Regions from separate parts of the Homo sapiens genome. Here region 2 is linked to region 1. Evidence: fine-mapped expression QTL. Tissue or cell type: testis. Region 1 holds a variant in brackets; the other region holds the start of a gene. All regions are shown on one strand. Distances are between the middles of the regions.

Evidence for each region. PIP is the estimated chance that this variant, and not a neighbour inherited with it, causes the effect.
Region 2: it holds the start of LINC00839, and the variant in region 1 is the best candidate, but not a certain one, in a credible set for the expression of LINC00839 in testis (GTEx, PIP 0.73).

The regions. Positions count from the first base shown.
Region 1 is chr10:42,096,073-42,100,320 of GRCh38, reverse strand. No RefSeq gene overlaps it. Among named protein-coding and RNA genes, the nearest start is that of LINC00839, 380 kb to the left of the region's middle. The variant G/C (reference allele first, on the strand shown) is at 2,050.
Region 2 is chr10:42,473,532-42,477,779 of GRCh38, reverse strand. It overlaps LINC00839 (long intergenic non-protein coding RNA 839), which reads right to left and starts at 2,289. Exons shown (of 5, transcript NR_026827.1): 1 at 1,900-2,289; 2 at 338-519.

The DNA of each region.
Region 1 (4,248 bases):
TCGGTTCAATGATTATTCCATTCGAGTCCATTCGATGATTCCACTCGATTCCATTCGATGATGATTGCATTCGAGTCCATGGATTATTCCATTCCATTCCATTAGATGACTCCATTCGAGTCCATTCGATGATTCTCTTCGATTCCATTCGATAATTCCGATTGATTCCGTTTCATGTTGATTCCATTCGAGTCCATTCGATGATAATTCCATTCGATTCTATGCGATGATTCCATTCCTTTCCATTTGAAGATGATTCCATTCGAGACCATTCGATGATTGCATTCAATTCATTCGATGACGATTCCATTCAATTCCGTACAAGGATTCCATTAGATTCCATTTGATGATGATTCCATGCCATTCCATTAGATGATGACTCCTTTCATTTCCATTCAATGAGGATTCCATTCGGTTCCATTTGATGATGATTCCTTTGAATTCCATTTGATGACAATTCCATTCAATACCAATTGATGATGGTTATTTTTGATTCCATTTGATGATGATTACATTCGATTCCATTTGATCATGATTCCATTCGATTCAAATCGATGATTCCATTCGATTCCATTCAATGATGATTCCATTCGAGTTCATTGACTATTCCATTCCATTCCATTTGATGATTCCATTCGAGTCCATTCGATGATTCTATTCGATTGCATTCGATAATTCCAGTCAATTGCATTCGATAATTCCATTCTATTCCATTTGAGGATAATTCCATTTGAGTCCAATCGACGATTGATCCATTCGATTCTATTCGGTGATTCCATTGGATTCCATTTGGTAATGATTCCATTCGAGACCATTCGATGATTCCATTCAATTCCATGCAATGATGATTCCATTCGAGTCCATTCAATGATTCCAATCAAGTCCATTCGATGATTCCATGTGATTCCATTCAATGAAACCATTCAATCCATTCTGTGATGATTCCATTCATTTCCATTTGATCATGATTCCATTCGATTCCACTCGATGATTCCATTCGATGCCATTCAATGATGATTCCATTCGATTCCATTTGATCATGATTCCTTTCGATTCCACTCGATGATTCCATTCGATTCCATTCAATGATGATTCCATTCGAGTTCCTTGACTATTCCATTCCATTCCATTCGATGATTCCATTCGAGTCCATTCGATGATTCTATTCGATTGCATTCGATAATTCCATTCGATTGCATTCGATAATTCCATTCAATTCCATTTGAGGATAATTCCATTTCAGTCCCTTCGGTGACTGTTCCATTCGATTCTATTCGGTGATTCCATTTGATTCCATTTGATAATGATTCCATTCGAGACCTTTGGATGATTCTATTTAATTCCATGCAATAATGATTCCATTCGAGTCCACTCAAGGAATCCATTCAAGTCCATTCGAGCATTCCATGTGATTCCATTCAATGAATCCATTCGATCCATTCTGTGATGATTCCCTTCATTTCCATCTGATGATGATTCCATTCGATTCCATTCAATGATTCCATCCGATTCCATTTGATGATGATTTCAATCAATTTCTTTCGATGACTCCATTCGAATCCATTCGATGATGAGTCCATCTATTTCAATTTCATGATAATTCCATTCGTTTCAATTCGATGGTGTTTCCATTCGATTCCATTCGTTGTTGATTCCATTAGTTTCCATTGGATGATGATTCCGTTCGAGTCCATTCGATGATGATCACATTGGATTTCATTCCATAATGCTATTCGATGCCATTTGATGATGATTCCATCGGGTTCCATTTGATGATTCCATTCGATTCCATTCGATGATGATTCCATTCGTTTCCATCCGGTGATGATTCCGTTCGCTTCAGTTCAATGTTTATTCCATTCGAGTCCATTTGACGATTCCATTCGATTCCATTTGATGATGATTGCATTCGATTCCATGGATTTTTCCATTCTATTTCATTAGATGATTCCATTCGAGTCCATTCGATGATTCTCTTCGATTCCATTCGATAATTTCGTTTGATTCCGTTTGATGTTCATTCCATTTGAGTCCATTCGATGATAATTC[G/C]ATTCGATTCCATGCGATGATTCCATTCCATTCCATTTGAAGATGATTCCATTCGAGACCATTCGATGATTGCATTCAATTCATGCGATGACGATTCCATTCAATGCCGTTCAATGATTCCATTAGACTCCATTCGATTCCATTTGATGATGATTCCATGCGATTCCATTAGATGATGACTCCTTTCATTTCCATTCGATGATGATTCCATTGGTTTCCATTCGACGATGATTCCATTCGATTCCGTTCAATGATTATTCCATTCGAGTCCAGTCGATGATTCCATTCGATTCTATTCGATGATGATTGCATTCGTGTCCATGGATTATTCCATTCCATACCATTAGATGATTGCATTCGTGACAATTCGATGATTCTCTTCTATTCCATTCGATAATTCCGTTTGATTCCGTTTGATGTTGATTCCATTCGAGTCCATTCAATGATAATTCCATTCGATTCTATGCAATGATTCCATTCCTTTCCATTTGAAGATGATTCCATTCGAGACCATTCGATGATTGCATTCAATTCATTCGATGACGATTCCATTCAATTACGTTTAAGGATTCCATTAGATGCCATTTGATGATAATTCCATTCAATTCCATTTGATGATGATTCCATGCCATTCCATTAGATGATGACTCCTTTCATTTCCATTCAATGAGGATTCCATTCGGTTCCATTTGATGATGATTCCTTTGAATTCCATTTGATGACAATTGCATTCAATACCAATAGATGATGGTTATTTTTAATTCCATTTGATGATGATTACATTCGATTCCATTTGATCATGATTCCATTCGATTCCACTTGATGATTCCATTCGATTCCATTCAATGATGATTCCATTCGATTCCATTTGATCATGATTCCATTCGATTCCACTCGATGATTCCATTCGATTCCATTCAATGATGATTCCATTCGAGTTCCTTGACTATTCCATTCCATTCCATTCGATGATTCCATTCGAGTCCATTCGATGATTCTATTCGATTGCATTCGATAATTCCATTTGATTGCATTCGATAATTCCATTCGATTCCATTTGAGGATAATTCCATTTGAGTCCCTTCGATGATTGTTCCATTCGATTCTATTTGGTGATTCCATTCGATTCCATTTGATAATGATTCTATTCGAGACCATTGGATGATTCCATTTAATTCCATGCAATAATGATTCCATTCGAGTCCATTCAATGATTCCATTCAAGTCCATTCGATCATTCCATGTGATTCCATTCAATGAATCCATTCGATCCATTCTGTGATGATTCCCTTCATTTCCATCTGATGATGATTCCATTCGATTCAATTCAATGATTCCATCCGATTCCATTTGATGATGATTTCAATCAATTTCATTCGATGACTCCATTCGAATCCATTCGATGATGAGTCCATCCATTTCAATTTCATGATAATTCCATTCGTTTCCATTCGATGGTGTTTCCATTCGATTCCATTTGATGTTGATTCCATTAGTTTCCATTGGATGATGATTCCGTTCGTGTCCATTCGATGATGATCACATTGGATTTCATTCCATAATGCTATTCGATGCCATTTGATGATGATTCCATCTGATTCCATTTGATGATTCCATTCGATTCCATTGGATGATGATTCCATTCGTTTCCATCCAGTGATAATTCCATTCGATTCCCTTAAATGTTTATTCCATTCGAGTCCATTCGACGATTCCATTCGATTCCATTTGATGATGATTGCATTCGATTCCATGGATTTTTCCATTCTATTTCATTAGATGATTCCATTCGAGTCCATTCGATGATTCTCTTCGATTCCATTCGATAATTCCGTTTGATTCCGTTTGATGTTCATTCCATTTGAGTCCATTCGATGATAATTCCATTCGATTCTATGCGATGATTCCATTCCATTCCATTTGAAGATGATTCCATTTGAGACCATTCGATGATTGCATTCAATTCATTCGATGACGATTCCATTCAATGCCGTTCAATGATTCCATTAGATTCCATTCGATGATGATTCCATTCGATTCCATTTGAGGATTCCATGCCATTCCATTAGATGATGACTCGTTTCATTTCCATTTGATGATGATTCCATTGGTTTCCATTCGACGATGATTCCATTCAATTCCGTTCAATGATTATTCCATTCGAGTCCATTCGATGATTCCATTCGATTCTATTCGATG
Region 2 (4,248 bases), 380 kb before region 1:
TTCTCAAGAATCAAGAAAGAAAAATCAAGTGCAAAGAATACAGGATGAAGGCAATAATAAAGATAACAAACATCAATGAAATGGAAAAAAAAACATAACACAAATAAACCAAGGCTAAAAGTTGTTTTTATAAACAACATAGTTAATAAACCACTAGCAAAACTGATTAAGGAAAAAAGATTAAAGAACACAAGAGACCAGTATCAGAATCAAAACAACAGCCTACGTAACAGTATTATAACAAGATAATCAGAGAATTTTGTGAAATTCTCCCCGGGAGGCCGAGACTCCTGCTTGTCCTTCCTCCGCTGCCGGCACCCCAGACTCCCGGACTCACCCTCGGCTGGGTTGCCGTCTTCTCCTTTCAGAGATGGATGCCACAGGTTCCGGGCTTCTTGGGCTCTGGGAGGACGCGCAGCGGAAGGCGAGGTCGCTATATGAGGCCGCTCCAAAGTCGCCTCGCGCTGTTGCTGCGTCACTGCCTCCAGCCTCCAGCATCCAGGGAGAGTGCAGGCAAAACTGATTAAGGAAAAAAGATGAAAGAACACAAGTGACCAGTATCAGAATCAAAACAACAACTCTACATAACAGTATTATAACAAGATAATCAGAGAATTTTGTGAAATACATATGATCAAAAGTCTGACAACAGAGATCGCAACAGATGCTGAACCCAACTTACTAAAACTGGCACAAAAATAGCATAAAATAAGAACACTCCTATATATATTAAACAAAATTAACTAACTAATTTTAAAAATCCAACAAATCAACAATAATGCTCCACAAGGAAAACACCAGGATCAGACTTTGAAAATGTTCCAAATATTTAAGGAAGAAAAAAATATTGACACTGCTCACTCTCTCTCAAAGAGAAAGACGAAAGGGATGGTTTTTCAATTTGTTTCGAGAAGCCAGCATTACATTAATACACAATCTGATCAGACAATAAAAAACCCAGAAATAATAGATGTTCTGTTTCACAAACACAGATACAAATATTCTAAGAAAAATATTGTTACATGAACTAAACCAAGCAAGAAATTAAAACTGAAATTAAACAACAAAGACCAGAGTAGGAAACAACAACCTACAATAGAAATGAACCAATAAAGGACTAATCTCTAAAGTGTCTTTAAAAATGCTTCACATCAATGTAGGAAAAACACAAATGATCCAAGACAAAAAGAACACTATGAAGGAAAAAAAAGGGGGGTGCATGGGCGAATAAATATTTGCTAAGCCGTACTATGAAGAGGGTTATTTCCAGTTCCAGATGAGAGATACCCACAGGCAGCCCGGGGGGTGGGACCCCAGGGGACAGGACCCCCAGAAGGTGACAGAGATCCTGGCAGTGGGGGACCTGGGGCAGAAGGTGACCCCATCCTCTTCCCGGGCTGCCGCTCAAGGCTCCTGCCGCTCCCGGGCTCCAGCGCCCTCTCACCGGGTCCTGATCAGGGCTCCCTTTCTCACCCCGGGTCAGGCAGAAGGCCCCGGACCCCAGTCCCAAAAGAAACGGAGGCTGCAGGGCTTCCACGCAGGAGAGAAGGGGAGGGCTCCTCTCCGACCCGGGCTCCTTCAGCGCCCACCCCAGCGGACTCTGAGAGGGCGAGGAGGAGGTCGGGGGCTAGGTTCAAGCCGCACTGGGCCCCGGATTCAAGAAAGAAACGGGCTCCTGAGACGCCTGTGCATCAGAGGGGTCCTGGCTCGGCCTGGGATGGGGCTCGGGGAGAGTCAGACGATCTGCCAGGCTCCCAGCCTGAGGCCGCCCTCCCCGGCGCGCAACCCCCGCCCCCACCGCTGGGGCCCTCCTGCCTTTCCCGGCACGTCGCTCCCCGAGAGGCCGAGACTCCTGCCTGTCCTTCCTCTGCCGCCGGTATCCCAGACTCCCGGACTCACGCGCGGCTGGGTTGCCGTCTCCTCCTTTCAGGGCTGGACGCCACAGGTTCCAGGCTTCTTGGGTTCTGGGAGGAGGCGCAGCGGAAGGCGAGGTCGCTGCATGAGGCAGCTCCAAAGTCGCCTCGCCCTCGCGCTGTTGCTGCCTCACTGCCTCCAGCCTCCAGCATCCGGAGAGAGTGCAGGCAGGCGGCACCCAGTTCTCTTCCTTCTCCTCCTGCCCACGGCGGAGCAGCCTCCAGCATCCAGGGAGAGTGCAGGCACGTGGTGCCTGGCCCTCTTCTTTCTCCTCCTGCCCAGGGCGGAGCCATACAGACCACGCTGCCTGGAGCAGGGTGAAATGCGGAAAGCCCACGGAGCAACTATTTATAATGACTTATTTAACTAGATATCCTGTAAGGCATGTTCGGATTGGATGAGAGCCACTGTGCAAAACAACTCTGATTGGATAATATGACCCAATCAGGGCTGGCTGAAATGTTCCTTCTCGTCCTATCAGACTCAGGGTATAGATGCTGGGGTGGGGCAGGAGCCAGCGCCCCCACCGGAATTTGTGGCCACTTCGCCTTTGGCTTTGCCTCCTGCCATGCCCCGCAGGCCCGGAGAATGTGGCCCCAGACTGAAATGAGAAGAAGGTGGCCCCGCCGAGGGTGAGTCTGGGGAGGCTGGAGTGGGGGCTGTGAGGGGGTGCCCGGGCAGGAGTCTCGGCCTCCGCTGGGAGCAGCATATTCAGTGTGTAATGTGAATAACAGGCAAAATAGGTCTTAATTTTTTGTATTATTAGTGACAAAGACTTCCGGTCAACCGCAGGCCGTTAGGAGTTATGCTTTGGGGGAGTTGAGAGTTAAACTTGGATTTTTGACTGTGGGGGGTTAGCATCCATATCCCCCACATTGTTCAAGGGTCAGGTGTATTTTAGAGCACTGGCATGAATCACTTTGGGTCCCACTTGTTGAAAATAGGCATTGACATTTGGAGGCGCCTCCTTGTAGCGAGCAGGTACTACTGATCTCTCTCTTCCACGTACTGACCTTTCCCCAGCTTCTGTGGAACCCTGTTTCCTGGAGTTTACTTACATTCTTTAGTCAATTCTTCTCTAATTCTTCTGAAAGTGGATTTGGAGCAAGGGAAGAGAAACCTGCAGTCTTGGCTGTGTCCAGGTTTTGGTTCTGATTCTTGTGTGCGGTCCACATTCAGATTGGGGTCCTTAATGAAATCCATGGCTTCATCTCTCCTTGCATGCCAGCATCACCCAATCGTGTATAGTTAAACTCGAACTCCCTTTGCACCACAGACTCCCATCTCCAGGTGTTTAACAGGAATTGGATACTGAGCATGTGATATTTTTACCTAAACCTAAATACATCTTTTTTCCTTGTTTCCCTGTGTGCTTGTCCCCTGCCCAACCATCAGCACCACAAATCTAGACGCCTAAAATTCATCCACCTCCTTTGTAATGGCACCCAACCACCACATACAATCCTTTTAAATATCTCAGTTCTGTATTTGGAAAATTACACATTTTAACTGTCTTTTCACTTCATTGCCTTTCCATTACTCTAGGCCCTCATGGTTTCTTCACTGTTAGACTAATGAGCTATGAGTGTTTACCCTCCTAATCCTGCATACTCCTTAAAACCTCAGGCAGAAAATGGAAATTAAACTCGTGGGCATTCAAGGACACCCCCACGATTTTCAGGGTAAAGTTTTTATGGCTTAGCTTAATGCCCAACGACTTTCACATTCCTCTGTTGATAATTTCAATCTCTTGAAATTCTCTCAAACAAAAATAACTAACACTTGTTAACAACTTCGTGTTTCCAGGAAATACTTTAAGCAATTAAAGTCATAATTAAAGTAACATATGCAAAAACCCTATCAGTACTGCTTTTATACTTAAAGTTTTGTTTAAACGTAACCCTGTTTACTTGTTTATGTGTTGTCTATGGCTGCTCTCATGCTGCAGAGGTCGAGTAGAATATGGAATAGATGATGTGGACCACAGCTCCAAACATGTTTACTGTTTTGCCATTTTCAGGAAAAGTTGCTGGATGACTCCTAATCTAGTTGAATGTCTGTGTTACTAGTACAGGGAGATCCTTGCCAGCCAATGTCAGATAAACAAGTTGATTTTATGGACAATTTGTCTCATATATACAAGCACATTTCCAGTTTTTGTAACTGTTAACGATTTATTTTCCCACTTAGTTTGCTCCCTGTAACTTTGAGTGGCTCAACTATTCATCCTGTTTTGATTTCTTCATACCATTTACCCTCCTTCCAGATTATTTAATCAGGTGTTTTTATATTATACCTCAGCAGGGTTCTGAGCTTCTTGTTTGTTTACATGTC